7 linked regions of the Homo sapiens genome follow. The protein of the gene in region 4 purifies or fractionates together with the protein of the main gene of each other region. This does not show direct contact. Each region holds a gene or a part of one and is shown on either strand. Other genes may lie near its edges.

The links.
Region 1: the proteins of PACSIN2 (region 4) and THG1L purify together in Homo sapiens (affinity purification with mass spectrometry; 3 studies listed by BioGRID and IntAct, with this or other methods). This does not show direct contact.
Region 2: the proteins of PACSIN2 (region 4) and HELZ2 purify together in Homo sapiens (affinity purification with mass spectrometry; one large-scale study listed by BioGRID and IntAct). This does not show direct contact.
Region 3: the proteins of PACSIN2 (region 4) and WIPF2 purify together in Homo sapiens (affinity purification with mass spectrometry; 3 studies listed by BioGRID and IntAct, with this or other methods). This does not show direct contact.
Region 5: the proteins of PACSIN2 (region 4) and GAB2 purify together in Homo sapiens (co-immunoprecipitation; one large-scale study listed by IntAct). This does not show direct contact.
Region 6: the proteins of PACSIN2 (region 4) and PPP1R12A purify together in Homo sapiens (affinity purification with mass spectrometry; one large-scale study listed by BioGRID and IntAct). This does not show direct contact.
Region 7: the proteins of PACSIN2 (region 4) and CARS1 purify together in Homo sapiens (affinity purification with mass spectrometry, with the first as the bait; one study listed by BioGRID). This does not show direct contact.

Annotation. Positions count from the first base shown.
Region 1 is NC_000005.10:157,729,621-157,734,386, forward strand, and holds the start of THG1L (probable tRNA(His) guanylyltransferase), read left to right. Parts: upstream 1-1,799; 5' UTR 1,800-1,820; coding exon 1,821-2,011; intron 2,012-2,178; exon of another isoform or gene 2,179-2,389; intron 2,390-2,809; exon of another isoform or gene 2,810-2,990; coding exon of another isoform or gene 2,991-2,995; intron 2,996-3,247; coding exon 3,248-3,424; intron 3,425-4,766. UniProt on the Homo sapiens protein: Adds a GMP to the 5'-end of tRNA(His) after transcription and RNase P cleavage. This step is essential for proper recognition of the tRNA and for the fidelity of protein synthesis.
Region 2 is NC_000020.11:63,557,359-63,561,205, forward strand, and holds the end of HELZ2 (3'-5' exoribonuclease HELZ2), read right to left. Parts: coding exon 3,724-3,847; intron 3,572-3,723; coding exon 3,437-3,571; intron 3,340-3,436; coding exon 3,121-3,339; intron 2,970-3,120; coding exon 2,813-2,969; intron 2,738-2,812; coding exon 2,570-2,737; intron 2,013-2,569; coding exon 1,888-2,012; 3' UTR 728-1,887; downstream 1-727. UniProt on the Homo sapiens protein: Can degrade highly structured RNAs through its concerted ATP-dependent RNA helicase and 3' to 5' exoribonuclease activities. Shows a strong preference for pyrimidine over purine residues for its nuclease activity.
Region 3 is NC_000017.11:40,222,073-40,226,092, reverse strand, and holds part of WIPF2 (WAS/WASL-interacting protein family member 2), read right to left. Parts: intron 1-4,020. UniProt on the Homo sapiens protein: Plays an active role in the formation of cell surface protrusions downstream of activated PDGFB receptors. Plays an important role in actin-microspike formation through cooperation with WASL.
Region 4 is NC_000022.11:42,875,258-42,879,277, forward strand, and holds part of PACSIN2 (protein kinase C and casein kinase substrate in neurons protein 2), read right to left. Parts: intron 3,913-4,020; coding exon 3,791-3,912; intron 1,754-3,790; coding exon 1,631-1,753; intron 1,077-1,630; coding exon 880-1,076; intron 274-879; exon of another isoform or gene 1-273.
Region 5 is NC_000011.10:78,410,975-78,414,994, reverse strand, and holds part of GAB2 (GRB2-associated-binding protein 2), read left to right. Parts: intron 1-4,020. UniProt on the Homo sapiens protein: Adapter protein which acts downstream of several membrane receptors including cytokine, antigen, hormone, cell matrix and growth factor receptors to regulate multiple signaling pathways.
Region 6 is NC_000012.12:79,805,709-79,809,728, reverse strand, and holds part of PPP1R12A (protein phosphatase 1 regulatory subunit 12A), read left to right. Parts: intron 1-1,151; coding exon 1,152-1,246; intron 1,247-2,398; coding exon 2,399-2,503; intron 2,504-3,395; coding exon 3,396-3,563; intron 3,564-3,960; coding exon 3,961-4,020. UniProt on the Homo sapiens protein: Key regulator of protein phosphatase 1C (PPP1C). Mediates binding to myosin. As part of the PPP1C complex, involved in dephosphorylation of PLK1. Capable of inhibiting HIF1AN-dependent suppression of HIF1A activity.
Region 7 is NC_000011.10:3,002,757-3,005,773, forward strand, and holds part of CARS1 (cysteine--tRNA ligase, cytoplasmic), read right to left. Parts: intron 2,678-3,017; coding exon 2,610-2,677; intron 1-2,609. UniProt on the Homo sapiens protein: Catalyzes the ATP-dependent ligation of cysteine to tRNA(Cys).

The sequences.
Region 1 (4,766 bases), on a different chromosome or scaffold from region 4:
CATGGTGGCACGCACCTGTAGTCCCAGCTACTAGGAAGGGAGGTGGGAGGTTCACCTGAACCCAAGAGGTCTAGGCTGCAGTGAGCTGAGATCATGCCATTGTACTCCAGCCTAGGTGACAGTGAGACTCTGTCTCGAAAACATACACATAAAAAAAATAAAAATCATGAATTCATATTGATAAGTAATTTTGAAAAATTCACCTAATGAAAGTAGGGCTCCTAGAGGAGGCAAGATTTGGTTGTCTCCTGGTCAGCTTGGAGAGAGGAGTTTGTGGAAGTAAAAGGTGAGGAATGATAACCTACAGAAAACTGACTTCACAGCAACAGAAACAAAGAAAAGATGCAGGATGTCATAATTTATGTCTTGGTCCTGCCACATATGTGACCTTATGTAAATTATTTTTTTCTCTTTGAGTCTCAGATTTCCCCTTTGTAAAGGTGAAATCCCAGTTCCTCTTTTGCATCCCTCTGATGTTACTCTGAGCATCAAAGGAGTGATGACTACCATTTGTGGTACTATTATGAGGATATACACACATACTGATATAGATCCCTGTATGGATACACAAAAAACTGGTAACAGTAACTGCCTAAAGTATGTTGTTAGGAGTCAGTGAGAGACTTTTTGCTACATATAAAAGGATTTATATTGTTTGAATATTTTTCTTTTTCTTTAGAGACAGATTCTTGCTCTGTCACCAAGGCTGGAGTGCAGTGGCTAATGATGGGTCACTGCAGTCTCGAACTCCTGGCCTCAAGTATCTTCCCACCTCATCCTCCCATAGCTAGGACTACGGGCATGGGCTACTAAGCCTGGATAATTTTTTTTCTTTTTTGTAGGAACAGGGGTCTTGCTACGTTGCCAAGGCTGGTATGAATCTCCTGAACTCAAGCAATCCTCCTGCCTCTGCCTCCCAAAGTGCTGGGATTACAGGCGTCAGCCACCGTGCCTGGCCTGAATATCTTTCTTGAGGATGGAAAAAAAAAAAAAGTAAGTAAGTAGGTAATGAATTTGAAAGAGCTTTGTAAATCACAAAGTATGACACAAATATTAGGATTTTATTTTTACTATTATCCACCAGCAACAAGATATCAAACACTGGTTCTGTGATTATTTAATGGTGAAAAAGTTGAATAAATCAATTTAGTATACCCATATGTTGGAATATTGAGTCCATTTTTCTTTTAAAAATCACACTTTGGAATAATTGATGATACTGGCAAATGCTCAAGCTGAGTGGAAAAATATATAAACATTGTATAGGCGAATAATTCCAATCTTGTGCATTCCCTGTGTAAACCTACATACACAAAAAGAAAAAAGACTGAAAGGAACCATCCACAATGCTTTGATGGGAAAGACGGAGAAACAAAGTGTTAATTTTCTTAACTATAGTTTTGGTGTATTCCAGATTTTCTACAAGTTAATAAATGCCACTAAGAAAAGGGGAAACATCACAGCTACACCTTCAAACACCAGAAAAAGAATTTTTTTTTTTTTTTTTTTTTTTAGGTTGGGGTATGATTTTGATCTGGGCACTAACGGGGACACTGATTGCTTTTGCCAGTAAGTCAAGACCAGCAGATAAAAAATAATTTTTAAAAACCTCGTGAGACTGATTTGCCGCAGGACGGGAGGAGGAAGAAGCAAGCGTGGAAGGTGCTAACGGAGGAACCTAAACCTCCATCCTCTTTGCCTGGGAGGTTAAGAACTACAGGGAGAGGCGAGAGAGACTATGACTGCCCTACGGCTAGAGTAGCCGCGAAGAGAACACTTCCGGGGCGGGGCTATCTGGCCCTTTCCTTTCCGCGTGTAGAATGTGGGGCGCCTGTAAAGTTAAGGTTCACGATTCCTTGGCCACCATTTCCATCACTCTGAGACGGTACCTGAGATTGGGGGCGACCATGGCAAAAAGCAAGTTCGAGTACGTGAGGGACTTCGAGGCTGACGACACCTGCCTGGCACACTGCTGGGTGGTAGTGCGGCTGGACGGCCGGAATTTCCATCGGTGAGCGAGCTCGACTCGGGGCGTCGCGATGCGCCAGCGCTTCCGGGGAATCCAGCTTCTTCCCTTGCAAGTCCTCCCGCCCGCTCCAGTCACGGTTACCAGGGTAACGCGGTAGCCAATGAGTGCGCAGCATGGAGCATTGCCCCGCCCTGCGTGTTGGCTAGGACAGTGCCTGAACGCTGGCTGTTAGCGTAATTGAATGGGCGATGTGCTCCCGTGATGAGGATCTGGCTTGGAGTGCCCGTGTTAAGTGAACAGAGACTTGTTAGCAAGGACCTGTTGTTAAAAGTCACTCTCATGCACAATATTTAAGCTCTTAAGCCAATTGCCTAGCTATTCTGTTAGATATCTTTGAATGCTGACTGTTCAGAAGTCTGTGTAAGCCTTGCTTGTGGGCAATACTTAACGTCTGTGCTTCATTATCAGTAACAGGCCACATGGACTAGATTCAACAGAGAGTCAGAAAAAAAGAGAAGGCTGGGCGCGGGAGGCAGGAGGATCACTTAAGGCCAGGAGTTGGAGACCAAGTTTTTGTTTTTGTTTTGTTTTTTCTGTGGTTGTTGTTTGTGAAACTCCGCCACTACAAAAAAAAAAAAAAAAAAAAAAAAAAAAAGAGAGAGAGAGAGAGAAAGAAGGAAGAGAGAAAGAAAGAAAAAGAAAAAATTTAATTTGCCCGGCGCAGTGGTGCACACATGTAGTTCCAGCTACTGGGAAGGCTGAGGTGGAAGGATCGCTTGAGCCTGGGAGGTCAAGGCTGCAGTGAGCGGTGATTGGACACTGCACTCCAGCTTGGGTGACAGAGCAAGACCCTGTCTCAGAAAAAGAGGGAGGGGGAGAAAGAAATATAACAGAAAGATGGGAATTTAATCTTTGAAGAGGGCTGCATTGTTAATGATTATTATAACTAACATTTATTGAGCACTTACTAGGAGCTAGGTATGATTACTTTTATCTTCTCCCTAATCTTCAGGACAACCCAATGAGGTAAATATTCTTTTATTCCCATTTCACAGAAAGGAGAGTTGAGGCTTAGCATTTCTGTCTGGCTTTCTCAATTTCAGGGCAGGAAAAAAACTAAGTTCTTAAGAAAATGGATCAGGTTGTGGCTAGTTGAGCATTTGAGTTCACAGTGCTATTACATTATCTTCCTCCAAACAGCCTCTGTTATCTAGCAACAGAGCGTGTTGTTAATGACAGGCTTCCATCCATGCTTTCTTCCCTTTTTCCCCTGTGAAGGTTTGCTGAGAAGCACAACTTTGCAAAACCCAATGACAGCCGTGCTCTCCAGCTGATGACCAAATGTGCGCAGACTGTGATGGAAGAACTAGAGGATATTGTGATCGCGTATGGACAGAGTGATGAGTACAGCTTTGTGTTCAAGCGGAAAACCAATTGGTTTAAAAGAAGAGCCAGGTAATTCCATGACCTAACTCCTTTCTTCAGAATATTTCCTCCCAGCATCTGGTTTTCTGTTTATCTTAATCGCAGACTTACAGGCTACAGATGATGTCTGCAGTATTTGTAACTGCAGAGTACATGTATATTTCCTGTTTAGATTGTTGTACTTCCATCTGATAGCCGAGCATTCTGTGTGCCTCTTTTATCTGATTCTTTCCCCACATGCCCCATAAGATTGGTTTCTAGACTGACCTGGCATTGAACATTAAGATTAGAAACAGAGACTATAAGAATGTAATATTAACAATTCATAGGTTGGCTTTAGCCAGTGATAGTCTCTACGTGCATTGCATTACACTGTTCCTCAAGACAGATCTCATTATAAAATACACAAATCTGATATTTGATTTGGCAGTATTTTGAAACGCTGTATGGGAAACAAATCATATAATGAATTGGTTTTTTCTTTCTTTCTTTTTTTAATAGAGGTGGGGTCTCTCTGTGTTGCCCAGGCTGGTCTCAAACTCCTGGCCTCAAGCAGTTCTCCTGTCTTGGCCTCTCGAAGTGCTAGGATTACAGACATGAGCCACCACGCCCAGCCTGAATTGGCATTTTTTTTACAACAATGGTTTCTCTCCTTTCATGACTGTAAACACAAACAGATCAGGCGTGGTGGCTCACGCCTGTAATCCCAACACTTTGAGAGGGTAAGGGAGAGGATTACTTGAGCCCAGAGGTTTGAGACCAGCCTGGGCAAGATGGTGAGACCTCATCTCTACAAAAAATTTAAAAATTAGCCGGGCTCAGTGGCATGTGCCTATAGTCACAGCTACTAAGGAGGTTGAGGCAGGAGGATCCATTGAGCCAAGGAATTTGAGGCAGCAGTGAGCTATGATTGTGCCAATCCACCCCAGCCTGAGGGACAGAGAGATTCCATCTTTTAAAAAATAAAATAAAATTTAAAAATACCCCTTGAATCATAAATTCGTATCACATCCTGTAGGGAAAGGTTTAGTATCAGTAGGTTACTTAATAGAACTGGAAGGAGAGGCAGGCTGCATTTAAAATACATAACTGGCCAGGTGTGATGACTCACGCCTGTAATCCCAGCACTTTGGGAGGCTGAGGCAGGCAGATGACTTGAGGTCAGAAGTTTGAGACTAGCCTGGCCAACATGGTGAAACCCCATCTCTACTGAAAATACAAAAATTAGCTGGGCGTAGTGGCCTGCACCTGTAATCCCAGCTACTCGGGAGTCTGAGGCAGGAGAATCACTTGAACCCAGGAGGCAGAAGTTGCAGTGAGCCAAGATGGTGCCATTGCACTCCAGCCCAGGCAACAGAGCAAGACTCTGTCC
Region 2 (3,847 bases), on a different chromosome or scaffold from region 4:
TTGCAGAACTACTCTTATTTCATGACGGTCCAAGAATAGACATGGTCTTCAAGGCAGGGCCCGTCCAGCACACCAACGGGGCCACAGTCCTGGAGACTCCATGCTCCACCCCTCCCTCCACAGATGCCCAGAACCTCTTTTCCCACAGTGACCATAGCCCCCGCGACCATCTGACCCCCGAGCTGGCTCTGGGAGGCCACAGGAGCCCCTGTGGACGCAGCCACAAATGGGCCAGGTGCGGAGGGACCCCAGTCCACAGCGGCCAGGGGGTCCTGGGGAGCAGCTTTAAAAGTGGGACCAGCAGGACAGTCAAGGCTGGTGGCCTCAGGGACTTTGGACTTGGCCAGCCTGGTGACACCGGAGCAGCTCTGGAGCTGTGGCTTGTCCCCACCACACCAGGCACGGCCCTCCCCTCCCCACACAGGCAGCCGGAGACACCGGCCCTGCAGGGGGGGTCGCTGCCCTCCCCACGCTCCTGCGCCCAGCGCTCTGCAGTGGGCCCTCGACGGCCTCCACGGCCGCGTCCCAAAACCGCCCTCCCCACGCCCCTGCGCCCAGCGCTCTGCAGTGGGCCCTCGACGGCCTCCACGGCCGCGTCCCAAAACCGCCCTCCCCACGCCCCTGCGCCCAGCGCTCTGCAGTAGGCCCTCGACAGCCTCCACAACTGCGTACCAAGCACAGTGACCATCCACTTTTGCCCCCCAGCCAGACCTCAAACACCCAGAAGTGAGAAGAGCTTTCAGAGTGGTTTTATCATTAAATTAATATCTAATCACATAATTCAAAGATATAAAAATTGGAATGTAGAAGGTGGGGCAAGCCCCTCCCTCAGGACTGGAGGCGGCAGCAGGGACAGAGCCGCACTGAAGCGGGTGAGCGTGCGAGAAACATACAGCCGAGCAGGCTGCCCCGAACACTCAGTCCAGGGTGGAAGCATCGCCCCGGCACCCCCCAACCCCCGAGCCCACTGCGCAGCCCACAGGAAGAGTGCAGGCTTTTCACATTTCAGAGGGTGGGGTGGGGTGGGGTGGGGCGGGGTGGGCCCCTGGCTTTGGGCTGCCCTCCAGCAGCCCCTGAAGGACACAGGCGGTGATGGTGGGAGAAAGGCCCCCTCTCCCAGGGAGGCCTCCTTGTCCTGAGCTTGGGCTGAGGTCTCTGTTCCAGTAACAGATGCTGGTTTTGTTTTGTTTTTTTTTTTAAGACAGGGTCTCGCTCTGTCACCCAGGCTGGAGTGCAGTGGTACCATCAGAGCTCACTGCAGCCTGCGCCTCCTGGAGTCAAGCGATTCTCCTGCCTCAGCCTCCCAAGTAGCTGGGATTACAGGCGCCCGCCACCACGCCCAGCTAATTTTGTATTTTTAGTGGAGACGGGGTTTCACCATGTTGGCCAGGATGGTCTCGAACTCCTGACCTCAGGTGATCTGCCCGCCTCGGCTTCCCAAAGTGCTGGATTATGGGCGTGAGCCACCACGCCCGGCAGGATGCTGGCTTTTAGTTCATTTAAATAGAAAATAAACCTGAACTCCACAGACACCATCCAGAGTGATTACAGGTGGCGTCCAAAGGTCAAAGGGCAGCCTCCACAGGGTTTCCTTCCTGGTTCTGAGACTTCCCAGGGACAGCAGAACTTCCTTGCACTGGTCCCAAGGAAGCCCCTCTTGGCCACCCTGAGAGGTGTTCCTGTCCCCAGATGCCCAGGAGGAGCAAGAGTGTGGGGACCGGCCCTTGCCGTTCCTCCTCCAAGTCCACCCACTTCCTGCCCCAGGGAGATCCTGAGGCCAGGAGGCAGGCTGGCCCAGGCAGGCTGATGGCGGAGGGTGGTGGGGAGGGTGGGGGGGCCCTGGACTTTCCCTCCCAGTCCTGGCACCTTGCAGGTGGAGAGGGCTCTTCAGGAAGGCATAGTTGGCCTCCTGCAGACGCGCACCTGGCCGGCAGGCACGAGGGTCTGCTGAGCCTCGCAGAAGTCCAGGAGGCTACGCCAGAGGGGGCAGCAGCGCAGAAGGAGGTGGTCTCCTGTGAGGGTGGGAGTCAGATGGGAGTCAGTCAGGGTCAGGTGGGAGGAGTCAGGGTCAGGTGGGAGGAGTCAGGGTCAGGTGGGAGTCAGTCAGGGTCAGGTGGGAGGAGTCAGGGTCAGGTGGGAGGAGTCAGGGTCAGATGGGAGTCAGTCAGAGTCAGGTGGGAGGAGTCAGGGTCAGGTGGGAGGAGTCAGGGTCAGGTGGGAGGAGTCAGGGTCAGGTGGGAGGAGTCAGGGTCAGATGGGAGTCAGTCAGAGTCAGGTGGGAGGAGTCAGGGTCAGGTGGGAGGAGTCAGGGTCAGGTCGGAGTCAGGGTCAGGTGGGAGGAGTCAGGGTCAGGTGGGAGTCAGTCAGGGTCAGGTGGGAGGAGTCAGGGTCAGGTGGGAGGAGTCAGGGTCAGATGGGAGTCAGTCAGAGTCAGGTGGGAGGAGTCAGGGTCAGGTGGGAGGAGTCAGGGTCAGGTCGGAGTCAGGGTCAGGCAGGAGTCGGCAGCTCCCTAGCCCAGCCCTGGCCTCACCTGTGTTCCCACCCTGGAAGAGCCCAGCCCCGCCCTCACCGATCAGGCAGAGCCCCTCCTGGGCCCGCGTGACAGCCACATTCACTTGGTTGGGGTCCACAACGAAGCCCAGAAACTTCTTGAGCCAGCTCTTGGTGGGCCGCTGGTCCAGGTCGCTCTTGGCACAGGTGCGGACGGTGCTCACCAGCACATAGCGCCACTCGCTCCCTGCGGGATGGGAGGTGAGGCCCTGCTGCCGCTGCGCCCACCCTCCCGGCCCCACCCACGAGCCCCCAGCCTCACCCTGGCTCTTGGTGATGGAGGACACGGCCACCCCGGCGATGCCCTCTCGCCGAAGGGCCTTGCTGATCTCAGAGGCCTGCGCGTTGTAGGGCGTGAGGACGGCGATGTCCTGGGGCTCTACGGTCCTCCCCAGGGTCAGCTGCTTGGTGATACGGACCTGAGGAGCCGAGGGGGCAGGTGGAGCGGACCCTGGTGTCTCTCCTGCCCTCCTCCAGGAAGCCCTCCCTGACTCACAAGCACCAGACACTCACCACCTCAGCCACCTCCTCCAGAAAGCCCTCCCTGACTCACAGGCACCAGACACTCACCACCTCAGCCACCTCCTCCAGGTTGGCCTTGGAGTTCTCATTCCCTTCGTCCGTGGACACCAGCAGGCTCCGCTCGTGGCCCTGCACGTGGCCAAAGATGACAGGGCAGCTCTCCTTGCCAGCGTGGCCCAGGACACTGGGCGGCCTCCTCAGGCCCTGCCACGTCTTCAGCTTGCTCTTGTAGAACGCCACAGAGGGGAAGGCACAGATGCCCTCATGCTGCAGGCAAGGATGTGCGCTGGTCAGAGGCTGCCACGCGGGGTTGTGGCCCCCCAGGGGCTGCAGGTGGGCTGGGGGCTGAGTGGGGCGGGCTCACCATGCGGTACTGAGTGTCCAGCATATGTGCGTCCTCGTGGTACCGCTCGAACAGAGACCGGTCCAGACCCAGGTTTTGCAGCCGCTCATTCTTGACCACAGGCCGCAGCTGCTTGTGGTCTCCGAGAAGAACCACCTGGAGGAATAGGCAGGCCTGGCCCTGACACCCCTAGACCCAGAGGGACCCCAGCCCCACACGACACCCGCGTCTGCACACACAGGGCACCCCAGGTGGGAGACTGTGCCAGGGACGCCTGCTCATGCTGCCCACACCCCCCGCCGACCAACCTTCTCGGCCTGTGGGAACTGCACCAGGGGGATGAGGGTTTCAGGTTCCGTGGCCATGCCTGCCTCGTCAACAAGGATCTGCCTCACGTCCAGGATTTTGAGGCTGGCAGAGGCTGCACAGGAG
Region 3 (4,020 bases), on a different chromosome or scaffold from region 4:
AAGCACAGAAAGTAGGTCAGTGAATTTGCACTTTAGAAATATCATAATTACTTGCTAAAAACAAATTATTTCCACTGAGGGGCCTCAAAATCCAAATGGCACTCAATTTGAATCCATGAAGCTTAAGAAACTAAATTTTTTTTGAAAATCAATTATAATGGCTGAGCCTGGTGGCTCACACCTATAATCCCAGCACTTTGGGAGGCCGGCAAAAGTTCAAGACCAGGCTGGGCAACATGGCGAAACCCCATCTCTACAAAAAATAAAAATTAGTGAGGCATAGTGGCGTGCGCCTGTAGTCCCAGCTACACAGGAGGCTGAAGTGGGAAGAACACCTGAGCCTGAGCCTGGGGAGGTCGAGGCTACAGATCACGCCGCCACACTCCAGCCTGGGCAAGAGAGAGAGATCCTGTCTCAAAATAAAAAGGGAATGATCTTCACGATCCATCCCAAAACATATTGGAGATAACCCTACCTTTAGCTAACTATCCCCTGAAAAACAAGAGAGTATTTACTAAGTAGAACACATTGTTGGATAGCCATTCCAAATTGCTCTAACTTTGCCAAGCTTAAATGGCAAGGAAGAAACCAATTCCTGGCTCCCCTATTTGATAACTTACATACTTCTGCAGGCTCTTAAGCCAAAATGAGCCAAAATCTTAAAGAGAGTTAAGACTGACATAGACATTAGCAAACATATCACCTTTTTTTCCTATTAACATTGTTGTTCCCCATAAAGGTCTATTCAGCATTTTTTTTTTAGTAGCCCTCTGTAGATATCAAGAAATGCTCATAAATTTAGCCTGTAGTTCCTCAGGCTCAATGGCTTGTGAGAAAAGAAAAAAAAAAAAAAAGTTGGAAATACTGTCTTCTCTTCCACAATGCCCACGAAGCTAGGCAAAGGCAATGATTCTGCATTTAATCACTAGATGAATAAGAAACAGACTTGAATTTAGAAGAAAGATAAAGGACCGCAAGAACATTCAGTAAAGAGTACTGCCTCTATTTCTTTGCAAAGCAGCTCTCAGGATCTGCCAATGAACCTCATTTTGACATGGAACGCCCCATCCACTCTAATCCGGGGCATATCCCTCAAGACACAGTCAGTCAACCGGAACTCTGCCAACTTTTGCTTGGGAGTTGTGTGAAGAATAGTAGCAACAAGAGCCTACTTTGAGAAGGAGATCAACAATCACACTCAAGAAGAAAAGAAGTTATTTGGCAAAGGGATGCATGTTGCCAAAATGTTAGTCACAGCTTCAAGGGCCCAGTTTGTGTCTCTACAACTATTCTTTGCTTTGACAGAGGCCATTATCTGACCCAGGAAACAGCTCAGCTTCTGTCACCCTCCCCATCTGAAGCAGTGAAGAATCCTTTCAATTTGGTAGTATCAAACTGTGACACAGACAAGATGTCCACCAGAGACTAAAAGGGGAGAAAAAATGTGTAATTTGCCACTTTCTACATAGGACTGGCTCAAGCAGAGCAACGGAAAACTGTGACAGGATAGGAAAAATGGAAAATCATTATGTTAAAGAAGCAGGCTGGGCCGGGCGCGGTGGCTCACGCCCGTAATTTCAGCACTTTGGGAGGCCGAGGCGGGTGGATCACAAGGTCAGGAGATCAAGACATCCTCGCTAACAAGTTGAAACCCCGTCTCTACTACAAAAAAAAAAAAAAAAAAAATACAAAAAATCAGCCGGGCGTGGTGGCAGGCGCCTGTAGTCCAGCTCCTCAGGAGGCTGAGGCAGGAGAATGGCGTGAACCTGGGAGGCGGAGCTTGCAGTGAGCCGAGATTGCGCCACTGCACTCCAGCCTGGGGGACAAAGTGAGACTCCGTCTCAAAAAAAAAAAAAAAAAAGAAAAGAAAAGAAAAAAAAAATAAGCAGGCTGTACCAAAAGTCCGCCCAGGAGCACCGAGCCTCCATATGTTATCTCAAAATCCCCTTAAAAAACAAACCAAAAAGGTACACTGTAGGTTGCAATAGCATAATATTAAGCAGGTTTTTACTCCCAAATAAGTACATATATTTTGTAGCCTGCAACTCTTCCTGGGGTTGTAAGAAGACTATGTTTGCTGAAGCTGCCTGAACCAAGAGCCCATGAATTTCACAGTTATTTCAGAGCAGGAAAACAGACTAACATATACCAGGTTACTCTCCCAATCAGAGAACACAAGTAAAGAAAGAACATTTAATAATTTTCTCGGGCCGGGCGCGGTGGCTCACGCCTGTAATCCCAGCACTTTGGGAGGCCGAGACTGGCAGATCACAAGGTCAGAAGTTCGAGACCAGCCTGACCAACACAGTGAAACCTCGTCTCTACAAAAATACAAAAATTAGCCAGGCGTGATGGCACCCAGCTACTCAGGAGGCTGAGGCAGGAGAATCGCTTGAACCTGGGAGGTGGAGGTTGCAGTGAGCAGAGATCATGCCATTGCACTCCAGCCTGGGCAACTGAGCGAGACTCCGTCTCAAAAAAAAAAAAAAAAAACCCAAAAAAAAATTTTCTCTTCAACAGAACAAGACTTCTGTCTCTTGCCTCTTGCCTTTTTTTTTTCCTAAAAACACCTAGTGAGTCTAGAATCTCTTCCCTTCGTAAAAGCCATCAGTAAAACCTGAAAACTCCAATGTTCACACCTCTCCTGCATTTCACCTTGGTGCTATCACATAACTTATCAGTACCAGCTAGGGTAAACACTACTCTAGTATCAAGTGTGAGGTGGAATTAGTAAATGACCAGCCTGGCCAACATGGCAAAACCCTGTCTCTACTAAAAATACAAAAATTAGCCAGGTGGCACATGCCTGTAATCCCAGCTACTTGGGAGGCTGAGCCAGGAGAATTGCTTGAACCCAGGAGACAGAGGTTGCAGTGAGCCAAGATTGTGCCATTGCACTCCAGCCTGGGCAATACAGCAAGACTCTGTCTCAAAATAAATAAATAAACAAATAAAAAAACAAACACTACATTCTACTAGTCTTCATCAATTGACTTCATTCATCTCCACCTTCCCCAACTCTTAACTTCCCTATCTTCATCTTGATGGCAACCAATGTAACACAATATGAAATTTTTACTTTTAAAAGTTGACATTAATAAGAGTTAAAAAACTAAACATGCGGCCAGGTGTGGTAGCTCATGCCTGTAATCTCAACACTTTGGGAGGCCGAGGTGGGTGGATCACCTGAAGTCAGGAGTTCGAGACCAGCCTGACCAACATGGTGAAACCCCATCTCTACTAAAATACAAAAAATTAGCTGGGCGTGGTGGTGCATGCCTATAGTACCAGTTACTTGGGGGACTGAGGCAGGAGAAGCGCTTGAATCCGGCAGGCGGAGGTTGCAGTGAGCCAAGACTGCGCCATTCCACTCCAGCCTGGGCAGCAGGAGCGAAACTCTGTCTCAAAAAAAAAAAAAAAAAAAAAAAAAAAAAAAAACTGAATATGCATCAAATCAAAACCAGTTCTTCCCTGGCTGGCACGCAGACACACACACACACACACAAACACACACACACATGAGCAAGGCTAAGAGGAAGAAACAGAAAAACATGTTTCCTTTTGTTGTTGTTGTTGTTGTTGTTGAGGTGGAGTTTCGCTCTTGTTGCCCAGGCTGGAGTGCAATGGCGCGATCTCAGCTCACTGCAATCTCAGGTGATCCACCACCTTGGCCTCCCAAAGCGTTGGGATTATAGGCATGAGCCAGCGCGCCCAGCCTTGTTTTCCTTTAAGAGACAGGTCGGCCAGGCGCGGTGGCTCACACCTGTAATCCCAGCACTTTGGGAGGCCAAGGTGGGCAGATCACGAGGTCAGGAGTTCGAGACCAGCCTGGCCAATACGGTGAAACCCTGTCTCTACTAAAAATACAAAAATTAGCTGGGCGTGGCAGCACGCGCCTGTAATCCCAGCTACTTGGGAGGCTGAGCCAGGAGAATTGCTTGAACCCAGGAGACAGAGGTTGCAGTGAGCCAAGATTGTGCCATTGCACTCCAGCCTGGGCAATACAGCAAGACTCTGTCT
Region 4 (4,020 bases):
TCAGCCTCCCAAGCAGCTGGGACTATAGGTATGCAACACCACGCCCAGCTAATCTGCTACTTTTGTTTGTTTATTTATTTGAGACAGGATCTCGCTCTGTTGCCCAGGTTATTTATTTGTTTGTTTGTTTGCGACAGGGTCTCGCTCTGTTGTCCAGGTTGGAGTATAGTGGTACAATCATGATTCATTGCAACCTCAATCTACTGGGCTCAGGTGATCCTCCCACCTCAGCCTCCCAGAGAGCTGGGACTACAGGCATGTGCCACTAAAATTAGCCCAGCTAATTTTTTTTTTTTGACACAAAGTCTTGCTCTGTCACCCAGCCTGGGGTACAGTGGTGTGACCTTGGCTCACTGCAACCTCCACCTCCCAGGTTCAAGTGATTCTCCTGCCGCAGCCTCCTGAGTAACTGTGATTATAGATGCCCCGCCACACGCCTGGCTCATTTTTGTATTTTTAGTAGAGACAGGGTTTCACCATGTTGGTTAGGCTGGGCTCGAACTCCTGACCTCAAGTGATCTGCCTGCCTTGGCCTCCCAAAGGTGCTGGGATTACAGGCGTGAGCCACCATGCCTGGCCTAATTTTTTGTATTTTTTGTAGAGACAGGTTTTGCCATTTTGCCCAGGTTGGTCTCATACTCCTGGGCTCAAGCGATCCTTCCACCTCGGCCTCCCAAAGCTCTGGGACTATAGGCATGAGCCACCACATCCAGCCAATTGGCTGCTTTTGACAATGAAGCCAGGGCACTGGGGAAGGGCCTGCAGTGACTCACAAGTGAAACTAGCAAGAACTTTTCCAGACTTAAAAAACAAAAAAGACCGCCCACAGCCTGCAGGTTGGAAGCCCTCCTCCCCTGGATGCTGGGGGAGCCCACCTACCAGCCTTGAAGCTCAGCTCATCATGCTCCTGCCCCTCATAGTCATACAGGGCCCGGACTCGCACTTCCGTCCCCGAGGTGGCGTCGTCGTCGAATGGATTCGAGTCCCCATTGGCATCCGTGGAGGAGAAGGGGTTGTTAGACTCATCGTCTGACCAGTCGGTGGGATAGCTCTGGGTCTTCTCGTAGCTGCTCACACTGCAAGAAAGGGGAGGCCACAGGGCCCTCAGCACAGGGCGGCAGAGGGTGTGAGGCCCCCGCCCCGCAAGGGGAGGGCACTGGAGCCTTGGGGCTCAGGGCTGAGGGCTCCTTCCGAAGGAGCACAGGTGGAGCCAGTGCTAGTGTGAGTTCATGCCATCCACACTCATCCTGAGCCATCAACAGGCTTTCCAGGGGCAGGCGGCTGGAGATGCCCACAGCAGAGGCCAACCTGGGGCCTCACTCTCTAGTCCCCAGCACAGACTGCGCGTTGTCTGTTTTCCTGTCATGGTGCTGCTAGGGCCTTGAAGGGTTAACAGAGGACAGAGAAAAAGCAACTTAAGATTGTTAGCTGTGCCCTCCCCGAGGAATGGGGGTGCCAGAGAGCCTGTGCCAGAGAGCAGGTAGTGGGCCAGGGTGCGGCACGCCAGGTGCCCACTTCCTGCAGAGCTCCGTGCATTGCCGAGTGCCGAGGGGTGAGACCCCTGGACAGAGAGAGAGGAAGAGAGACAGAGTGAGCGCGGTGGGAGCAGAGGAAGCATTTGTTCACCAACTTTTTGGCCTTAGTGTCGTCCTTCTCACTGACGGTGCTGCCCGTGTCGTCCTCATCCTCGAAGGGGTTGTAGCTGGACTGTGACTGCGCAGACTGGGCGGGGTTGCTCGGGACATTAAGGGTGCTATGGAGAGAGAGAGCTTTCAGGGGATCCCAGCTCTGCAGGGGCCCGTGAGGGTCCTGGCAACTCCTAGCTGCAGGATCTCAAGAGACAAATCAGCTCCTCCTGTGACCGGAGGGGACCGTGGTGTTTCAACAGAAAGGTTACTATGGCAGAATGCGGGCAATACTTCAGCTGTGAAACACGGTCCAGGAGCCTAGGAGAGGACTTGGTTTCCCTTTTCCTTCCTTGCACCTGGAGACAGTCCGTCCAGAACAGGGGCCCTGGGGTGGCCCAGGGGCGGGTGACAAGCCACAGCTGGAGCAAAAGTCGTTTCCAGGTTCAGGGCTTCTCCTCTGTCCTGACTCCCACCAATGTGAGCTGGGGGGGTCAAAAAGCCCCTCAGGGTCTCCTCTGAGAGTGACAGTGTGGGAGGGGCCGGCTCCCATGGATGAGTGGGAGAGGGCTCTGAGCTCTTCAGCCCACACGGCCTCCTCCTGACTACTAAGGGGTTCAGGGCTCGCTCTTCTGCTCTGTGGAGCTGAAGCCTCCAAAATCAGGGCCAGGGCCTGCGGCACCGTCTTTTCTAGATAGAAAGAAGATTCCTTTGGTGCTCCAGAGGGAAAATCCAGTCGTGCAACTGCCTACTGTTTGCCAGGCCCAGTGTGGGAACCAGAGAGATCTGGGCCAAGCTCTGCCTGAGGGCTGGGAGCCGGGAGCTGAGTTACACACTACGAAGACCACAGGCAGACCATCAAGCAATCCAATCAGACAGGCACCAAGGGCCCTGGCACCCCACCAAGTAACTGATCCTAGGACCGGGCTACCCTGGCCAGCAGCACCTTCTACTTCCAAGACCAGGGCCTCAGGGCACAGGCCCCCAAAGCACTGGATGGACTGCTCAGCCTGAGCACCCACCACCCCAGAACCAAGGAAGGGAGGCGAGGACATGCCTCCAATGCCACCAGGGTGATCCTGAGTGGCCAGTAACTGCCTCATCCACTTCAGCCTGGCAAGTGGTACTTGACCTAGGCCTGCTGGAGGCCAATATCCAGGCCACATGTCTGAGCTCACCGGCCCTCCTCCCTCCTTGGCACCTTTCTCTAGCAGACTGTTGTGAGACGGCACTGGTGGGGGCGGCTGGATTGTGCAGCAACCCTGGCCAGCCCAGGGCCCCCAGGGTCTCCTCTGAGGCAGTGTTTCTTCTTTCCCATTCCCACCCCCAAGCATACAGGTGCTGGCCTGATCCCTGGGACAGGCACTTACTGCCGAGCCCACCTGCCCAGACAGCGTGCAAAGCAGCGGAATGACGACAGCCACACCTGCTGGGGAGCCTGGGTGGGGGCTTCAGTGCCTGGGGCTGCAGGAAGGCCAAGGGAACCTGGGCTAAGCCTTCTTAGGAAGCCCCCGTATGAAATGACTATTACTGAGTGTCACATGGAGGCCTGTGGGCAGGTCCTATAGGAAGACCTCCTCTAGCACACACTTTCCAGAAGGTTCTAATGACCACAGTGCCACCCTTATATCTCTCATTTTCAGCCAATGACTAAGTCAGAAATAACCAATGCTCCTAGTGAAGAGGTAATTTGGAAAGGAGATGCCTGGCAGTCCTCTCCTGTCCCTCCCTCGACTGGCGCCTGCACACAATACAGAGTGAGCATGAACCTCGGCAGGACCTCAGCTGCCTGAGGGAACCAGGGTGGCACCTCCACCAGTGTCCGGGCAGGGCGGTGCTATCCCTGGGGACATGAATGCCAGCCCTGTCATCAGCTCCTCCCCACTCAGGTCTGAAGCTCAGGGCCAAGCCTCCCTCTCTGGATCTGTCAGCAGCTCTGGCACCAGGCAGGAAGACGACCTTCCCTGGAGATGCCCCTGGGCCACGGCCCACAGAGCTCAGGAGCCCAGGAACCTCCCAGGTGTCCAGGCTGGGCCACGGCCCACAGAGCTCAGGAGCCCAGGAACCTCCCAGGTGTCCAGGCCGGGGCTGCCCTGGACCATGCAGATTGCCCAGGGCCCCCACCATGGAACGGCCTCTTTTGGATGGAGGTGGCGCCCACTCACCTGCTGGGCTTACTCGGCAGAGACTGGTCGCCTGTCTGGTTGATGCCCGTCAGGGTGACGCCGTCAGTGGCCTTCTTCTTCTCTCTCCGGCTGAGGGTTCGATTCAGGTCTGCGGACCACTCCTAGGCAACAGGTGCCGAGGGAGAGAAACCAAAGGTTCACTACTTGCTGGAAGCCACGTCTGTCCTCAGTTCCTGCCCAGCGAGCCTGCAGTTGGCTCTGTGCATCTG
Region 5 (4,020 bases), on a different chromosome or scaffold from region 4:
GAGGCTGAGACATGAGAATCGCGTGAGCCCGGGAGGCTGAGGTTGCAGTGAGCCGAGATCGTACCACTGCACTCCAGCCTGGGTGACAAAACGAGACTCCATTTCAAAGAAAAACAAAAAAACTTACTTAATTCGGAAAGACGGGAAGGTGTAGAGGGGAAAAACATCTTAGAAGAAGCAAAGGCAAATGTTTGAGCAATTAGTTTTCAGGGATTTTTTTCATCAGCCTTTTCTAGTTAATTAAGTATAAGTATAAGAGACCTATCTGCTATTTACTGAGTGCCCTGGAGAAATTGCAAAAAGTGTCTCTGGAAAATGCTGACTATTGCCTCTGGGGCATCCTGATATGGCTGCAGTGGGAGGCCGGCAGAAGTAACAACCCTCCCATCGTGCCTCAGTGTATTTGTGTGTGTATGCGCGTGCATGCAAATGCATACACACGTACATGTATATAATTATTAAACAGAATTTTCTTGAGGAAAAACATTTTATTAATATGACCTACACTGCATTGTAGTTTTCTATCAATTTCACTGGATTAAAAGATTGAGGGAATAAGATTGGCAGACTACCCCCTAGTGGCTAACTTGAAGAAAGTTGTGCACAAATTGTAAAGAACTACTGCATTAAGGTAACAGTAATTGTTTATTTCCATTATATTTATTAAATATACTTATTAAATCTATGTCCCAGGCACTGGATCAGGTGCTTGGAATAAAAATCCAGTAAACAGAAAAAAAAATTAATCCAGTCTTTCAGTCTTAGCAATGGCTTTGCCTTCTCCTTCAAAGGAAAATTGAAATGATGAGGGAGTAGTTGTCTGTACGTACGATGAATGGCCACATTTTCAAATTTACTTGTATCTGCATAGTTCCTTTCTTTCTTCCTTTTTTTTTTTTTTTTTTTTGAGACAGAGTTTCACTTTTGTTGCCTAGGCTGGAGTGCAATGCACGATCTGGGCTCACTGCAACCTTTGCCTCCTGGGTTCAAGCGATTCTCCTGCCTCAGCCTCCCAAGTAGCTGGGATTACAGGCATGCATCACCACACCTGGCTAATTTTGTATTTTTAGTAGAGATGAGGCTTGACCACGTTGGTGAGGCTGGTCTTGAACTCCTGACCTCAGGTGATCCACCCGCCTCGGCCTCCCACAGTGCTGGGATTACAGACAGACATGAGCCACCGCGCCCAGCCTGCATGGTTCCTTTCTTGTTTCCTTTTCTTAGAGTAGATGAAGTGCCACTTCTATCTGAGCTAATCCTGCTACTTATACTTTGAATCATATCTTCTCCTCCCTACTCAAATAATTCTTATCCTGTAACACATCTTCAACTTCTTTCCCTCTCTGTACTACCTACTTTTTTTCAGGGATAAACTTGGTGGTGGTTTATGCAGTCTTCCTTTCTCCCACCTTCTTCTCAGTCGGCTCCAGTGGAAACCTACTTTGTTATTCACCAAAGCTATTCTGACAAAGGCACCAGCGATACCCAGGTCACTAAACTCAGAGGATGATTTTTTACTCCTCATTTTAATTAATCTCTTCACTGCTTGGTCATAGTTGACCACTCTTTTTTAAAACACCTTCCTCTTATCTTGGCTGACACTATAAATGCCTGTTATTTCTCCTTTTCTGGCTACTCTATATTTCCTTTGCTAGACTGACCCTTTTATCCAGTCCTTAAAGGTTGAAGCTCCTTTATAGTCATAGTGGCTGTGTGGTTTCTCCCCTTTGGCAACCTTGTCCATTCTACTGGCTTCAGTTATCATTTGCATGGTGGTCATCAAGTTAAATTTCCATCTCAGAGTTGTGTTCTGAACTTCAGACTTACATATCCAACTGTTAACTGGGCATCTCTATTTGAATGTTTCCCAGTCAACACAAACTCACCACTTCCAAAACTAAACTCTTCTTTGTTCATCTCTTCACTCCACATCTGCTCAGTAAACAGTGCCACTAAGCACCTACTTGCTCAGATGAGAAACTTGGGCATCATCTTTGACTCCCCGTCACCCACTATCCCACATCTAATCTGTCACCAAAACCCATTAGTGGTATCATCTAAATATCTTGTTATACGCTTCTTCATCCCCACTGCCATGACTTTTAGGATTATTTTAGTAGCCATCTGTTGAGCACTTACTTTGTACCAGGCACTATGCTTAGACCATTGATCTTTTAATGTAGTAATTTAGCCCTATAATAAGGGAAGCAACTTACCCAAAGTCATCTAGCTTTGTCCTAAAGCCTGGGCTTTTTAAAAAAATTAAACATTTCATTTTGAGGTAATTCTACATGCACATCTAGTTGTAAGAAATAGTAAACAAAGATTTATGTAGCCATTATCCAGTTTTCCTTAATGGTAACATCTTGCAAAATTATAGTACAGTATCACAACAGTATATTGACAATGATACAGTCAAGATACAGAGCATTTCCATCATGATAGGATTTTTTATGTTGCCCTTTTATAATCGTATTCACTACCATCCCACCCCTACCACATCCTTAATCTGTGACAACTACTAATCTGTTCTCTGATATTTCATGTGTGTTATTTAAATGGATTCATGCAGTACTTAAGATTTTGAACTTTTTTTTATTCAGCATAATTCTCTGGAGATTCATCCTCATTTCATGCATCAATAGTTATTGTTTTTTATTGCTAAGTAGTATTTCATGGTATGGATGTACCACACAGTCTGTTTATTTAACCATTCACCCGTTAGTTCTCATTTACATTTCCCTTATGGCTAATGATGTTGAACATCTTTTCATATGATTATTTGCCATCTGTATATCCTCTTTGGTCAAATGTCTTCAAGAATTTGAGTATTTTATATATAGGTTTTTTTTTTTTGAGATGGAGTTTTGCTCTTGTTACCCAGGCTGGAGTGCAATGGCATGATCTCGGCTCCCCAGGTTCAAGTGATTCTCTTTGTTGTTGTTGTTGTTGTTGTTGTTGTTTTTAGACAGATTCTCACTCTGTCACCCAGGCTGGAGTGCGGTGGCACAGTCTTGGCTCACTGCAACCTCTGCCTCCCAGGTTCAAGCGATTCTCCTGCCTCAGCCTCCTGAGTAGCTGGGACTACAGGTGTGCGCCACCATGCCCAGCTCATTTTTGTATTTTTAGTAGAGACAGGGTTTCACCATGTTGGCCAGGATGGTCTCAATCTCTTGACCTCGTGATCCGCCCACCTTGGCCTCCCAAAGTGCTGGGATTACAGGCGTGAGCCACTGCGCCGGCTTTCCTGGTTTTTTTTTTTCTACACATTTTACAGGTTTATGTTTTTCCTTTAAGTCCGTGATCCACTGTGAGTTAATTTTCATGTAAGATGTGAGACTTAGATTGAGGTTCTTTTGTTGTTGTCATTGTTGTTGACAAAGCCATCCTACTTCCATTGAATTGCTTTTCCGTCTTTGTCAAAAATCAGTTGGACGTATTTGTGTGGGTCTGTTTCTGTTGTCTCTGTTTTGGTCCATTTTTCCATGTGTCTGTCCCTCTGCAAATACCATAGAATCTTGCCAACTCTAGCTATATTGTAAGTCTTGAAATCTGGTAGCCTGATTCCTCTACTTTATTCTTATTTTTCAAAGTGTTTTAGCTATTCTATTATCTTTACCTTTCAATACAAATTTTAGAATAATCTTGTTTATGCAAAAAAAAGAAAGTCTTGCTGAGATTTTAATAGGAAGTGCATTAATCCTGTGTACCAATTTGGGAAGAAATTACAGCTTTACTATATTAAATCTTCCAGTCCATGAATTTATTTTACATTTATTTATATATGTCTTTCTTCCTTCGTTTATTTTCTTCTCCTTCCACCATCCCCCCCCCCAACCACCCCCACCAGAATCTTGCTGTGTCACACAGGCTGGCGACAGTGGCACAATCATGGCTCACTGCAGCCTCAAATTCCTGGGCTCAGGTGATCCTACTGTCTCAGCCTCCCAAGTAATTGGGACGACAGCTGCGTACTGCTGTGCCTGGCTAATTTTTTTTTTTATTATTTGTAGAGACAGG
Region 6 (4,020 bases), on a different chromosome or scaffold from region 4:
TGGTAGATTTTCTGCTAGTTATCTTTAGATCTAGGTATCAAGTTAATTAACCTTAATGAATTACATAAGACAAATGTAATTTATACAGAATTATAAATACTGGAAAGATCAGATGTATTTGCCTAAAACATAAATTATGGGACTATACTCCGTTAAAGGAATCTATTACCTTACTTGAGAATTTATAATAGAACTGTATTAAGGAGCAGGCTTATTTTGTTTATTATGATTCAAGAAACTTTCTGAAGTTTAAAAAACATAGGAACACATTTATTCTAGAATGTTAGTATACTCATAAGTTACATTTATTCAGTATCTGAAAAAAAATACCAGATTTTTCATCTACCATATTACAAGCAACTTTGTCTTAATGAGTAAATTTAATAACTATTTTGAGAGGTGGTATTAATACTGCATTATATAGGATGTACCACAGTTTATTCAATACTAGTATTTATTTCTACAGCATATTCAGTGCTTGAACTATTTTTTTTGCCCATACAGTTTTCTTTCTATACTTAGAAATGTTTCCTTATATCAGAAATTCAGATGAAATTTCTCATCAAGTAATTCTAATATTTTTGCTTTTTTATCAGTTTACTGTGCAGTTGGTTTCCAGGTATTTTATGCCAGCTTACTAGGAATGTATCAGAGTGTCATTGTCACTACACACTCTTAGCCATATTTGGATAAATATAATTTAAATAATATTTGTTTTGACTATTTTGATGTATTTGAGAGCATTGATTATCAAGGTTCTAAATAGCTTATATAATATAAATGCTTGAGACCTCTCAGTGAACAATATTTGAAAGTTTATTTCTCTGGAAGAAATAAAGATATTTCAGCTTATGACACAGTATTAATCTGTTAGAGAAGTTTTAGAAAAAGTCATTAAAATCTGGAGAAATTTTTTTCCTTTCTTAGTAAAATATTATCTGATTCCAGGCTAAAAGAGAAAGAAAACTAATTTGAACAGGCTGATTATTGATTGACATTAATTTTAGAGTTCAGCTAGGAATTGTTGAAATACTGTAAACTATGATAGCTATGTAATTATAATTATTGAATAACCTTTTCTTAATACTTTTAGCATTGCCTATAGTCAGTACCCAAATTAATTTTTACTTATTTTTTTCCCTGTTGTGTAGGAGAAAGATAGTAAAGGAACTAGGCTTGCATATGTTGCACCTACAATACCAAGACGACTAGCCAGTACATCTGACATTGAAGAGAAAGAAAACAGGTGAGTTTATTTTGATTTGCTTTATGCATTCACTATAAAATCTTTATTATCTAGCATTAGAGTTAATACATGAGCATTGTAATTATGTGCGGATATGTATTGTGGGAAGAGATGGAGGATATTCCTGAAGGAGAAAATACCAGGTACATAGTCCTGAGGAGGTGCAGGCTTGGTATGTTCATGAAATAATAGCAAAGAAGATGTGGCTGGAACAGAGTAAGGGGAAAGTGGGAGGAGATAAGGTCATGAACTAGTATGAGTTCTCTAAATATTTGGAACATTTAGGAAAGGGGAAAGAAGAAGGAAAGCCCTTACTTAATCATTTTAGTTTGTTTTAAATATTTTTGTTTAAATATTGTTTAAATATTTTAGTTTCTTCCTGTTTTTCAGCTTATAGAATTTTATTTTTTTAATTTAATTATTTTTATTTTTATTTTTATTTTTTTTGAGACAGAGTCTCGCTCTGTCACCCACGCTGGAGTGCAGTGGCGCAATCTCGGCTCACTGCAACCTCCACCTCTCAGGTTCAAGTAGTTCTCTGCCTCAGCCTCTCAAGTGGCTGGGATTACAGGCACCTGCCACCCTGCTCAGCTAATTTTTTTATTTTTAGTAGAGACAGGGTTTCACCATCTTGGCCAGGCTGGTCTTGAACTCTTGACCTTGTGATCCACCTGTCTCGGCCTCTCAAAGTGCTGGGTTACAGGTGTGAACCACTGCACCCGGCCAATAACTTTTTAATATACTTTTAATCATGTTATAATATCTAATTTTTTTATTTTTTTCCCCTAAGATCTCATAAGCAGTCTTCTATGTTAATATATATTTTTAATAAGCATTTTTTTTGTCGGCACATAACATACTATAAAGTAGATCTTCTGCGGTTAAAGTAAGCATCTCCCCTACTTTATATTTTGTGATCAAAAAGCATATTTCTATAAATATCTGAATTTTCCCCCATACTTAGGGGAAAAATTATACCTTAGGGTATATAATCTTAGTACTGAAATTACTTTATCTTCTTGATTAGTATTCCTAAGTGTCCTCCCAAAGGTTTTTACTAGTTTCAGCTTATACTAATATTTACTAGTGTACCGCTTTCTTAATCCTATTTTAAAATTATGTACCAGAATCTGAAGGGTGTTCTTTTAACAGAGATTCTTCAAGTTTGCGAACAAGTAGTTCATATACAAGGAGAAAATGGGAAGATGATCTTAAAAAAAATAGCTCAGTTAATGAAGGATCAACGTATCATAAAAGGTAATAATACTATTCTTAAGCGGTTTTTATGTATTCATTTATAAAAATATGAGGCAATTTGTTTGGAGCCCTCAGTTTAACATCATTTTAAACAAATATGTGTTTTTATTAAATACGAGTTTTTGTTGTTTAAAACTTACTCTAAACACAGGATATATATTTAAAGATAGGTGATAATTTGTTATGCCTATTATATAATTAAGCTTCAAATATTATGAAATGTTTTTTGGATTGTTACATATTTAAAAGGAACTCCTTTAGAAGGAACTCCTTGACTAGAACAACTTAAACAGGCCAGTGTCTTAATGGATCTAGTTGTCATTGTTGATCTGGAAAGATTTGGCTTGCCCTAGAACTCAGAGCTATGGAAATGCCTTCAGTTGGAATGTTGGTAGTATCATATTGAAGAGGAAAAAAAAGCCCTATAAACAATTTCTTTACTAAAAGCAACCAAAAAGAATAAGATGTGAACAAGTATCATGTAGGCATTGGTTACTTCCGAGGTATCTGACCCATTGCTGAAATAATTTCCTTCAAAAAAATGTCAACGTCTTGTTTTCCCTGGGTAATACAAAACCAAAGTGTGTTTTTCAGGCTCAGCCTGGCATGACCATATGGTGTGGAATAGTTTCAAAAATATGAAATATCAGATCATCTTTGTCTTGTTGAGAAAGTTGGGAGGAGGCACTAAAATGATACACTACCGAATTAAGTGAAATCTTCTAAACTCTAGCAAGTTGTAGATGCAACTCTTGGTGCTGGAGCTGGTGGTGTATTTAGGAACACAGTTTTTAAATTTTTTTTCTAGCCTTGTAATTTATATAATGTATAGACATTAACTATAGAATACACATACAAACACATCCTATATAGATATGACTCTTTTGTTTAGTTGCTCCTTTGGTAGAAGACAAGATGATTTGATTAGTTCTAGTGTTCCAAGCACCACATCAACACCAACAGTTACCTCTGCAGCTGGGCTTCAGAAAAGCCTGCTTTCCAGCACAAGCACTACTACAAAGATTACAACGGGTTCTTCCTCAGCAGGCACACAAAGCAGGTAAGTCACAGATACATTTTGTGCTCAGGTCTACTGTGTGCTTATGTATGTGCATGCGTTTTTGTTTAGAAGATTGTGGGGCTCTGGATTTTTTCATTTATCTTGTTAAATTTATTTGCAGACAAAAATTGGTTCCAAAATGAGGCAATTATGCATGTCTGGGGGAAATTTTAAGTTCCTGAACTATGAACTTTCCTTGAATTAGACTGCTTAAAATGTAAATTTCTCTCTTTGACAACTCTGGGTGAGCTTTTTGGTTCATAATTTAAGGATGTCTCACCTTGCGTTTTAAAAAAATCCATCCCTGTAGTCATGTGTTTTCAGCTGCTAGAAAGTGCTTTCATTGTTTAGCTGTTTTCCTTTTCTCTTTTTTGTGTTGCTGCTTATGATGCTATAGTACCTCAAATCGTTTGTGGGCTGAGGATAGTACTGAGAAAGAAAAGGACAGTGTTCCTAC
Region 7 (3,017 bases), on a different chromosome or scaffold from region 4:
GTGCCGGGCAGCACACCGACCCTCTTCCATTCCCTTTGGGGATCCTCAGCGGCACCCCTGGGTGCCTGGCCCTGCCCTAGATGCAAAGGTATGCAGCAGGCAGACAAACAGAACCAATGCTAAAAGATCCAGGCACCACTAACATGAAGAAATGGACCAGCATGGTGAGCCTGGCCCAAGGAGAGAGGATCTGTAAGGCAATGACCAGGACAGCACTGTGAGGGTTATCCTGAGTGGGTCTTGGGGTACCTGGGAAGGAGCAAGAGCGCCAGGGCAGGATGGGGATGGTGGGCGGAGGGCAGCCTTGGGGGCTAGGTGAGGAGACCAGAGCCCACTCCAACCAGCAGGCAGCACCCGGGCAGGGGCGAGGACAGTCTGATGCTGCAGGGAGAGCTTATTAGTGGAGCCAGCAGGCTGGGTGCCGGTGAGGGAAGCCCTCGGTTGCTTTGGGAGGTTCTGGCCTGAGCCATTGCACGAACAGACATGCCCTCCACTGACGGAAAAGGAGCAAGTTTGGGGAGTTGAAAATCACATTTTCACCTTTCCTTTGGACAGCCTAGGTTTCAGATGCTTCCCAGCCCAGTGGAGCTATCAGGTAGGCACGCCCTCCATGGCAGGAAGGAGGAACAAGTTTGGGGAGTTGAAAATCACATTTACTTTGGACAGCCTAGATATCAGAGGCTTCCTGGCCCAGTGGAGCTATCAGGTAGGCAGCTGGGCAAACTGTTTTTGGGCCACCGGCTACAAGATAGATGGTGGAGAAGCCGCAGGACCAGATAAGGTCTCCTGGGGAGGCGCCACACACAGAGCTAGGGAAAAGAAACCAGGAAGGCACAAAGGTCTCAGAGACTCAGGATGGGGCTGGGGCCAACAGGATCGAGCTCTTTCGAGATAGATGGAGGGAGAGCAGGGCTGGCCGAGGGAAAGGGGCTGAGGTGGGGGAGGAGCTGGGCACTGAGCTTGGAGGAACCAGAGACACAGTGCTCAGGATTTCTGCTTTTTCCCTTTAAAAGTTAGTATGTGTTTATGTGCTGGTGGGAATGGTACAGGGAGAGGCAGGACCCCTCCCCCATGGTGCCTCGGGCCTGGGGATGCCTTCTTGCAGCAGCTTGGTGAGGTAAGAGTCCCTTGGTTGGGAAACAGGAGCTACTAGAAGTCACAGGCCACAGCCAAGGTGGCCAGTGGAAAGGCCAGCACAAAGAGTGCAAGGCCTGTGAGGCTCTGGCCGGGCCACCCTGGCGCTCCTCTTGTCTGTTTCCTGCTTCTGAGCACTCTGCCAGGGAGTGCAGCAAGCCAGGGCGTCTGCACAGCCAGCACCAGGCCACCTCACAGCACAGCACGGCAGGCGAGACCCAAGGCTAGGTGAGTGACTGTGATGGAATGGGGAGGGGCCCTGATGAGGCAGTCACACCAGCCAACCTCACAGGGCAAGCCCAGCTCTTCCCAACCTGCCAACCAGGATGGACCTGCAGACCACTCACCACTGTCTAGAGCTTTCCCCAGAGTTCCAGTTCGTTATTCCTCCAAAGCACTGCAAACTCCAGCCACCCACACTTGGATCTGGCATGAGCTCTCCCCTCGTGCCTTGGGCCAGTGCAGGGCTAGGCATAGATGCCTTCCCTGACCTTGTACATCCCATCTATCAATCAACCACCCTGTCGATTCTCCTTCCTCAGTTCCTCCCAGAGCCTCCTTCCTGAGAGCTGTGGCATCCAAACTCGCCCTCCACGGTGGTCTCCTGCTTTAAGCCTCTTGGGGACCCACCTGCTGGTGGCAACAGCCCCCATGGCCCACCTCCCATGGTGTGCACTGGGGGCCCAGGTGCCTCTCATCCTGCTGCCTGCATCCCAGGGTACCCCATGCGCTGTGCCCAGAGATTCTGACATTGCGTTTTTGTTCCTGTTCTTCTGTCCTATTGGGCACCGAGGAACTTGGGCCATCCCTGATCCTGGGGGCGTTGTGGGGTGCAGGTGGGGAGTATGCTGGGAATAGGAGGTGGAGATGCATCAGTGACACGCGCCACTCAGGTGAGGGCACGGTGGGACTGGGATCTTAACATGTCAGCTTCGGGCCAGGCGTGGTGGCTCAAGCCTGTAATCCCAGCACTTTGGGAGGCCAAGGTGGGTGGATCACGAGGTCAGGAGATTGAGACCAGCCTGACCAACATGGTGAAACCCCATCTCTACTAAAAAAATACAAAAATTAGCTGGGCACAGTGGTGCGTGCCTGTAGTCCCAGCTACTTGGGAGGCTGAGGCAGGAGAATCCCTTGAACCAGGGAAGTGGAGGTTGCAGTGAGCCAAGATCGTGCCACTGCACTCCAGTCTGAGCAACAGAGTGAGACTCCGTCTCAAAAAAAAAAAAAAAAAAAAAAGTCAGCTTCACAGTTTGCCAAAAGTGACTGGTTTTCACTTAAACTGAGGGAATAATCTTTTTAAAAGAGGTCCTTCATTAGAAGATACTAGTTAATTTTTCTTTCTGACATTTATAAATACTGGGATTTTAATAAAAGTGTAAACATCAATGCTTAAAAAGTAAACTATGTAATAATCGCAATGGTTTTTACATTTTCAACAAATATCACGCTTAAGTCATTTTCACTTTACTCACCCGTCTCTTTTCTTCTCTCTCTTTTAATAAGGTGTTTCTGTCTACCAGTTTCACCACTGTGGGCAGTCCTGCAAAATAAACTGCGTGTGAGAAGAGTCTGGGCTCTGTGGGCCGTCCCCACTGCGGGGCCAGCCCTGCCCTGCCCTGCCCTGCCCAGACCATGCGGTGCTGCCCAGTCAGAGCGAGGGCCCACAGGAGAAAAACAAACAAAAACCTCCATAGCAGCAGTGAAGCACAGGAGAACATTTTGGTTTGTGTGTGTGTGATTTTTTTTTTTTTTTTTTTGAGACAGAGTCTTGCTCTGTCATCCAGGCTGGAGTGCAGTGGCACGATCTCAGTTCACTGCAACCTTTGCCTATCGGGTTCAAGCAATTCTCGTGTCTCAGCTGCCCAAGGAGCCCACACCCA